3 separate regions of the Homo sapiens genome follow, and all the other regions are linked to region 1. Evidence: fine-mapped expression QTL. A gene starts in region 1. Each other region holds a variant in brackets. All regions are shown on one strand. Distances are between the middles of the regions.

What was found.
Region 2: its variant is fine-mapped to the expression of ADORA1 in fibroblasts (GTEx, PIP above 0.99).
Region 3: its variant is fine-mapped to the expression of ADORA1 in whole blood (TOPMed, PIP above 0.99). The same link has a PIP of 0.9 or more in blood mononuclear cells.

Annotation. Positions count from the first base shown.
Region 1 is chr1:203,126,521-203,129,273 of GRCh38, reverse strand. It overlaps ADORA1 (adenosine A1 receptor), which reads right to left and starts at 1,548. Exons shown (of 4, transcript NM_000674.3): 1 at 1,346-1,548; 2 at 842-996; 3 at 92-489. The coding sequence starts at 432. RefSeq lists an enhancer at 844-1,824.
Region 2 is chr1:203,198,759-203,201,511 of GRCh38, reverse strand. No RefSeq gene overlaps it. Among named protein-coding and RNA genes, the nearest start is that of CHI3L1, 13 kb to the right of the region's middle. The variant T/C (reference allele first, on the strand shown) is at 1,249.
Region 3 is chr1:203,081,656-203,084,408 of GRCh38, reverse strand. It overlaps MYOG (myogenin), which reads left to right. Exons shown (of 3, transcript NM_002479.6): 3 at 378-1,280. The coding sequence ends at 499. It overlaps MYOPARR (myogenin promoter associated myogenic regulatory antisense long non coding RNA), which reads right to left and starts at 614. Exons shown (of 3, transcript NR_160550.1): 1 at 430-614; 2 at 1-37. The variant G/C (reference allele first, on the strand shown) is at 1,647.

The DNA of each region.
Region 1 (2,753 bases):
GGGTCTTATGCTCTACCTTTTTTCCTTTCTAGATGGCCCTCAAGCCAGCCATCATGTGGTGCTGCGAGTACCTTCGGCGCTGTGGACTCACCGGAGAGGGATCTTGACCCGGAGGTAGCGGTCCACAGCAATTGCCAGCAGGGCCAGGATGGAGCTCTGGGTGAGGATGAGGACCGGACAGGCAACCATGAGGCAGGTGTGGAAGTAGGTCTGTGGCCCAATGTTGATGAGGATGGCGAGGGGGATGACCAGGGCACCCACGGCCACATCAGCCACCGCCAGCGACACGATGAAGCAGAAGGTGGCATCCCGCAGCGCCTGGTTCACCTTCACCGCCCAGATCACCAGCACGTTCCCGGGCACAGAGACCAGGGCGATGAGCACCTCGATGCCGATGTAGGCGGCCTGGAAAGCTGAGATGGAGGGCGGCATGGCGGGCACAGGCTGGGCACATCAGCAGACGGGCACCAAGGGGCACGAGGCAAGCACCTGTGTGGTCAGGGAAGCCTGGGATGGGGAGACCCGTCTGGGAGGGGCAGGGAGCTCAGGCTGCCCTGGAACTCCAGGTACCCTGTGATGTGTCCCACTTGTCACATGCAGCTCCTACCCAGGCTGGAGGGGCACCCGGACCCTTCTCTGCCTAATCTTTGTCCCTTCCCTTTATCATTCCCAGAGGTTCCATTCAGCAACTTAAAATAGCAGCGCTCACTCCTCCACTGGCTTTTTTATCAGGTGTGAGGCAGCTCCCAGCGCGCGCGCACACACAGACACACGCACAGAGGGGTCTCCCATGACTGGCTCTGCCCACCCCTGTGCACAGAACAGGATGCAGGGAGCTCACCATCCTGCCTGCTGGCCGGCAGGGGTCCCAGAGGCAGTGCCCAAAGTTCCAGGGAACAGAGCTCCGGGCCGCGCGCGGTAGGGCTGGGCTGGGCTCTGGACAACGCGCGGCAGCTCATAGTCCTCCGGCTCCCGCCGCAGCGCTCCCAGCCCGGCCTTTCAAGCAATCACATGGTACGGCAGAGACTCAGCCCCGGACGCTTTTAAAGAGGTAGCGCCCCTGTTTCGCACCTGGGACTGGGGTGGCAGACGTGGGTCTGGGGACGGAGCCCAGGACAAGGCTGGGGCGTTTCTCCCTATTCCCCAGCGTGCCCGCACCTGCCCTGCGCCCACCCACTTGAGACCCGTCTGGTGCCTGGATCTTAGCAGTCCTCTGGTCCCGTTCCAGCTCTGTCGGGGAACCTTGCCCATGGCCTGCCCCAAGGGGGCATTCCGGTCTCTTCTTTCAACCCTCTCCTGCACCCCCATTGGGGAGCCCCAGGGGTGAACCGAGACTCAGACTTACCCAAGGTCACCAAAGCTGGCAGAGCTCCCGGCTGCCTGACTGTTCTGTCCAAGTGCCCCCACACCTCGACGCCTTCAGCAGCCGCTAGCTCCAGGGATTCCTGGGGAAGCCAAGGCCGGCCGGTAAGCTCCAGAGGGATGGTAGCTGGCTGGGACTCGACTCGGGCGCCTGCGGCTCTGTCGCCCCCGGCGCAGGAGCTGAGTGACAATCGGGCTCCGCACACCGGGAGGGGGCGGGGGCGGCGGCGGCACCCGCCAGCCCCTCCCTCCTCATCCTCCGTCTCCTCCCCCACCCCCTCCTCTTAACAAAGGAAGTGATACTGGGTGAGAAAAGCTGGAAAAAATGTGAGCTTTTCGAAGGGCCTGGTGTGTGCGCCCAGCCTCAGGACTGGACAGAGGCGCATCCTTCCTGTGTCCACTCTCTCCCTTCTCAATGCAGGACTCCTGGGAGCCCTGGTCTGGCCTCCAGCGACCCCTCACCCCTCACGGCACAGCATCTCTTCTGCAGGACTTCAGAATGCCCCCTCTGGGATCTCCCAAAGCAGTCGGTAGCCCTGGCACCCTCCCCCAATCCTAAAACCCTGCTCTCTCCATGAAACCAGTCCCTGCATCTTCTCATCCCATATTGTTTTGCAGGCTCTACCCTGAGTCATTATATTCCTTTCTCATCCATCTTTCAGAATTGCCTTTTAGTCTATTAGCAATTTCTATTTTGCAGATAAGGATGCTGAGGCTCAGGGAAGTGACCTAGCTTCCCAGGATCTCCTGGCAGTGTAACCCGCTCTGCGCTCCTTTTCCTTCCTCCTTCTTCCTCTTCATAGCACAGCGCTAAGCCATAAGGCATCCAGTCCAATCCCCTCATGTTACAGATAAAGAAGCAGGCTCAGGGAAGCAAGGGACTTCCGGAGGGTCACAGGGCAAATCCTAACAGGACCAAAATAAGAATCCCAGGCTCCTGACTCTCTCCACTGGGTCCAGACCCCTCCCCTGGCCACCTTCTGCCAGTTTCGGTTTAGGCAGTCCACTGATATTAACTAATGACCAGACCCTGGACATGGATGGATGCCTCGCAGAGATCCCAACCTGAGAAATCCTTGTTTGTGGGTATTGGGCAAGGGTTCTAGGAAGGCAAAGAGAGTCAGGCTGGGGACCCCAATGTTAGCTAGCCACAACCCAACCTGGCCTCTGGGGGTACTGCCCCCCTCACTGGATCTCAGAATGCAAGGAAAAGGGTTCTGCCCAGAGGAGGGTGGGCACGTTGCTCCCATTGGGGGCTGCACTGAATCACAGTGAGGAATGATGTGGGACCCGGAACCTGGGTAGCTGGGAGGCAGGGAGGAAGGGCAGTTGAGTCTTCTGAGGAGGAGGGGGAAGCCCTCTGTGGGGAAAAATAACTTCCATTTCTGCCT
Region 2 (2,753 bases), 72 kb before region 1:
ACATTAAACAATTAGCACAACCTTGTCCACCTTGCTAAAGGTAGGACCCCCTGGGTGGTTCCTGGTCCCTCTATTCCCTCATCCTTTTACATCCAACTCATCTGTAAGTGTGCGGATGTTCCCTCCAAGGAATGTCCATAGTCCACCCTTCTTTCCACCTCCACGTCCCCAGCCCAGGGCAGGCCACCGCATCTCTTGCCTGGACCTCTTTAACAGCTGCTTATGTTCATGCCTCTTCCACTCTTGCCATACCACAAATCTATTCCCTACAGAGCCACTAGAGTGACTTTCCAAAACATAAACTCTATCCTGGACTACCTGCTTAAACATCCAGTGGTGTCCCATTGCACAGAGGACAAAACCCCTCTGTGGTTTCCACAGGCCCCAGGACACAGACCTGCCTCTCTCCCCGGGGCCTCTTGTCTCTCCCCACATCCCCAAACTACTCTAGCCAGCTGGTCAGCTTGCTTGTGCTTTTCTCTTTTTTTTTTTCCAACACACTAAGCTCTTTCTCACCTCCAGGACTTTGCATATGGTGTTCTCTGCCTGGATCATTTTCTCTCTTCTTGAGGTAGCTGACTCCCTCTCATCCCTCAGATTTCTGCTTAAGATCACCTCCTCGGAGAAGCCTCCCTGACTGTCCTAACTAAAGGAGGTTCCACTCCTCACTCTCCCCACCCTAGCCCAGGACTTGGCACCTAATAGGGGCTCAGTAACTCTTTCCTGAAAGAATGAACACATGCTGCCCTTAGTCCCTGGCAGACTCCTGTGAGCTCTTTAGTTTATCCTTCTAAGCCACCAAAGATTCACTCTCCTTTCCGCTTATTTTTACGTTTTCTCAAAACTTTCCTCATAAACACCATATTGTTGAGTTTCTTTCTCTCCCTAAAATAGCTGCAGAACTGGACAAAGACTGGCTATCTGCTTCCTAGCTGTCCCTTTCAGTTTCAGGGTTTATGTGCTAGTCATTGCAGGGGAGCAGTGGGGAGAATGGAAAATTACCAACAAGGAGAAGTGGCAGAATCCAGGGACTGACCGTGTTCTTACACCCGTGGTCCTCAGTCTATAGTTAGCTTCTGACTTCCTTTCTTGGCAAGATCTATACCAGCTATCTAGGACAGTCCCAGTTTCAACTGTTCTGTCCTATTGTCCCACTGTGTTTCATGAATTTTCTTACAATATTGGCTCTCTCTCTTTTTCCTCCCACTCTCCTTTTATCCCATGAGGGCAGCCTTACTTAAACAACCC[T/C]CGCACTCAGTGTTGAAAGAGCTGAATTCAGTTCAAGTCTTGCTCAACCACATAAAATGTGCACGACTTTGGGCAAAGCACTGATCCTCTCTCAGCTTCCGTTTGCTCACCTACTGAGAGGGATAAGGCCAACACCTCCATTCCAGCATTCGGCAGGGCGGGTTGTGACTGGAATAGCATGTGTTGGGCACTTGGCACCCATAGCAAGTCTCCCTTGCCCCTCAGGATGAATAATGGAGTGAATTAGTCTTTCAGCCAAAAGACTCTGGGCTCCAGAGAGTAATGTAATGCTTTACCCAAACAGTGGAAGTGTGGAAGTGATGTGGATGTTGGGGGACTGTTATATTCTCTCGGTTCAGCTGTGGCCTGAGTGATGAGTCAGGTCATGTCTGTAGATAGAGAGCTCTGTCTCCACAAAGAGGAGGTGCCCAGCTCCAATCCCTGGGGAAAGGTTGTATCTTTATTGGAAACCAGAGCTCAGAAGACTAGCCTTAGGGAGATGGAAGAGGGCCCCGACTTGGGAGCAGGGGTGCATCTTTCAACAGGGGTCCCTAAACAGATGGCGCCCTCCGTATGGAATCAGGAGTCGAGCATAGCTTGAACGTCTGACTGTCCAGGACCCACCTCAAAGCGTGCACTTCCCCTGCCTCACCCTCAAGCCTCCCCTGAGTCTTATCTGAATGCCTTGGCTCAGGCTCTGCTTTTCAGGGGGAGGACTGTGCCACCTCCTGGGCCAGAGTGTTAAGGGGTGACCAGTGCCCCTGAGACCACCTTGGCTACAACCTCTCAAGGGAAATGTGCATCTTGGTGAATCCGAGGGACAGGGTAGGGATCATGCAATCCAGCTGCTTCTTTCTCCCCACCAGGGAGGTCTTCATCCAGTGCCAACCTGGGTAGGTCTGCCTCGAGCATGTTTTTATTGAGGAGCTGGCACTTTCTTTCAAATGTCAGGGGCATTGAAGACCACGCAGGTTTCACCTCCTCCAGGCCCTTGCCTAGCAGGAGAAAGGTCACTTTCAGGCATGTCCTCACACTCCCTGCACTCAGGTTTGCCTTGGGCCATGCCTGGTCAAAGGAAGCCTAGAGACTGGGCTCCAGTACAGGCTCTGTATTTAGCAGCCAAGTGACTTGGAAAGGTCACCTGCTCTCTGCTTCCTCATTGTCAATGGAGAAAACAATCTCTGTATTAGTTTTCTGTGGCCGCTATAACTAATTACCACAAATTATAATGGCTTAAGACAGCACATATTTAATGTCTTACAGTTTTTTGAGGTTACAAGCCTAAAATAAGTTTGATAAAGCTAAAATCAAGATGTCCACAGGGCTGTGTTCCTTCTGGAGTCTCCAGAGCAGAATCTATTTCCCTGCCTTTCTAACCTTCTAGAAGCTGCCCGCATCCCTTGGCTCGTGGCTCCTTCCTTCATCTTCAGAGCACATCACTCCTACCTCTGCTGCCCTTGTCACATCCCCTTTTCTGTGTCTGACCCTCCATCATCCGCTCATAA
Region 3 (2,753 bases), 45 kb after region 1:
CTCCACAGAGAGGACAATGTCCCTGCCCCAGGGGTCCCTGTGAAGTGCTGAGTCAGTGCTGCAAAACTGGGCCGAGCAAAGGGCAGGTCCAGTCTCTGGGGAGCTCCATCCTGCTCCAACTTGAGTGGCTGCTTCCAAACCCTACCTACTAGGGGAGTTCAGAAAAGAGGCGCATACACACACACACACACACACACACACACACACACACACTCACAGAGCATGGGGAAAGGCAGGGACTAGGGAGTAGAACTCCGGAGCTTTGTCATTCATCTGTCCTGGAAAACCTCTGTCACCCCAAGGGTCCCATCCTCTATTCTGGGCCTCAAGAACCCCCACTGCTCACCCAGGTACCACCTTCCCACCTCCCCTTACAGATCATCTGCTCACGGCTGACCCTACAGATGCCCACAACCTGCACTCCCTCACCTCCATCGTGGACAGCATCACAGTGGAAGATGTGTCTGTGGCCTTCCCAGATGAAACCATGCCCAACTGAGATTGTCTTCCAAGCCGGGCATCCTTGCGAGCCCCCCAAGCTGGCCACAGATGCCACTACTTCTGTAGCAGGGGCCTCCTAAGCCAGGCTGCCCTGATGCTAGGAAGCCAGCTCTGGGGTGCCATAGGCCAGACTATCCCCTTCCTCATCCATGTAAGGTTAACCCACCCCCCAGCAAGGGACTGGACGCCCTCATTCAGCTGCCTCCTTAGAGGAGAGGGCATCCCCTTTCCAGGGAGGTAAAGCAGGGGACCAGAGCGCCCCCTCGTGTATGCCCCAGCTCAGGGGGCAAACTCAGGAGCTTCCTTTTTATCATAACGCGGCCTCTAATTCCACCCCCCAAGTGAAACGGTTTGAGAGACGCAGTGCCCTGACCTGGACAAGCTGTGCACGTCTCCTGTTCTGGTCTCTTCCCGATGCCAGTGGCTGGGCTGGGCCTGCCCTGAATTGAGAGAGAAGAAGGGGAGAGGAACAGCCCTCTGTTCCCAAGTCCCTGGGGGGCCAAACTTTTGCAGTGAATATTGGGAACCTTCCAGTGGTTTTATGTTTTGTTTTGTTTCGTGTGTTGTTTGTAAAGCTGCCATCCGACCAAGGTCTCCTGTGCTGAAGTTGCCGGGGACAGGCAGGGAAAAGGGGTTGGGGCCTCTTGGGGGTGATTTCTTTTGTTAACAAAGCATTGTGTGGTTTTGCCATTGTTTTGTATTTTTTTTTTTTTTTTTTTTTTTTGCTAACTTATTTGGATTTCCTTTTTTAAAAAATGAATAAAGACTGGTTGCCAGAAGAGTGTCGGTGATGATGCAGAGGGAGGGAAATGACTGACAGCCCTGCCCCTTCCCACTGAGCAGTCCAGACACACCCTAGTGGGTGGGGCTCCACAGCGCTAAGGGCCTCATCTTGCTGGTGGTCACTAGGCACTGGGGACCCCTGCTCTTTTCACCATGATAAAGGAAATCGAGCATGTCTGGACCTCAGTCTAGGTGGAGACCAGATTCCACAGACATCCTTGTGGGACACGGAGGACAACTGGCTATGACTATACTTCAAAGCCACTGCTCACAGGCTGCTGTGCTCTGTGTTATGTCCCAACAGGTCCGCTGGTTTCAGTTAACTGAGCACCTCGTAAGCCCAGTGCTCAGCCCACAGCCAA[G/C]GTGCAGAGCTAGAAGTTGTGGTTTCCCTTCCCTAGTCCCCACCTCTGCCCTGGTGTCACAATACCAGGAGCCCTGTAGAGAAGTGGGAGGTGAGGAAGGGGGATCAGACACTGTCATTTCCTTGCGGGCCAAATAGCATGGCCCCTCCCCATTCTCCTCCATTCCCTTCAGGCCGAAGGGGATTGTGGTTCCTGCTTGCAGCTCCCAGCATGAAGGAGATTCAGATTTAGCTCGGGGAGGGTAAAGGGGTCCACAAAGAACAATCGAAGAGAAGCTGGGGTTCTCTTCATTTGGGGTGCTATTTTCAAACATTAGCTTCCTGAGGTTAGAAGGTGGGTGGGAAATTGAGAACAGAGATTTTTGGGTAGACATTACATGAGGATTAACTGGGGAGTTAACAGGAGCTAGAATTCAAACGGAACATGGACATCTACTGAAAACTTTATTAATTCCAACTGCCTGGGGCTAAGTTCATCAGATTTATTGCAAATTATAAGTTTCAGAATCATCACCGAAGCAGGGATTCAGAGCATGGTACGTTCCAGCCCTGCTTAATCCTTCGGGGCCCTTGACAACGGACTTAACCCAGTGTTGCCTGAGGCTCTAGCGACCACCCTGCACCAGCTCCGGGCTCAGCTGGGCCATCTCTCCCACACCCACCCTCCTGACCTTACTGCTGGAGAGGAGAGTTACCACTGTGCCCCCCGAGTTTCTTCAGAAACTCTGCCTAAGGAAAAGAATCAGAAGAAGCCTCTGGAGGCTCCCAGAACTCAGGCGAGGGTGCAGAAGGGAGGGTCTCCCCCACTGCCTGCTTGTCCCAAACCAGTCAGGCAGGGCTTATTGGGAATTGCAAATTGGCCTACTCTGCTCCCATTGGTGGGATTTTCTTCTTTTCAAGTTGGTATCACTGAGTTTAGTCTTTCCCCCTTGGAGGGGCTGGAGAGGAAGACCAAGGTCATTTCCATGACTCTTAGCCCTGATTCACTGCCCTGGGGAATGAGGAGGGCAACTGGGTGGGCTGCAGTGCCTTGGCTCTGGAATCTACATTCACTCCCTTATTACCCTCCGAAAATACTCAGAACACATTCATGGAGGATCGTCTCCCT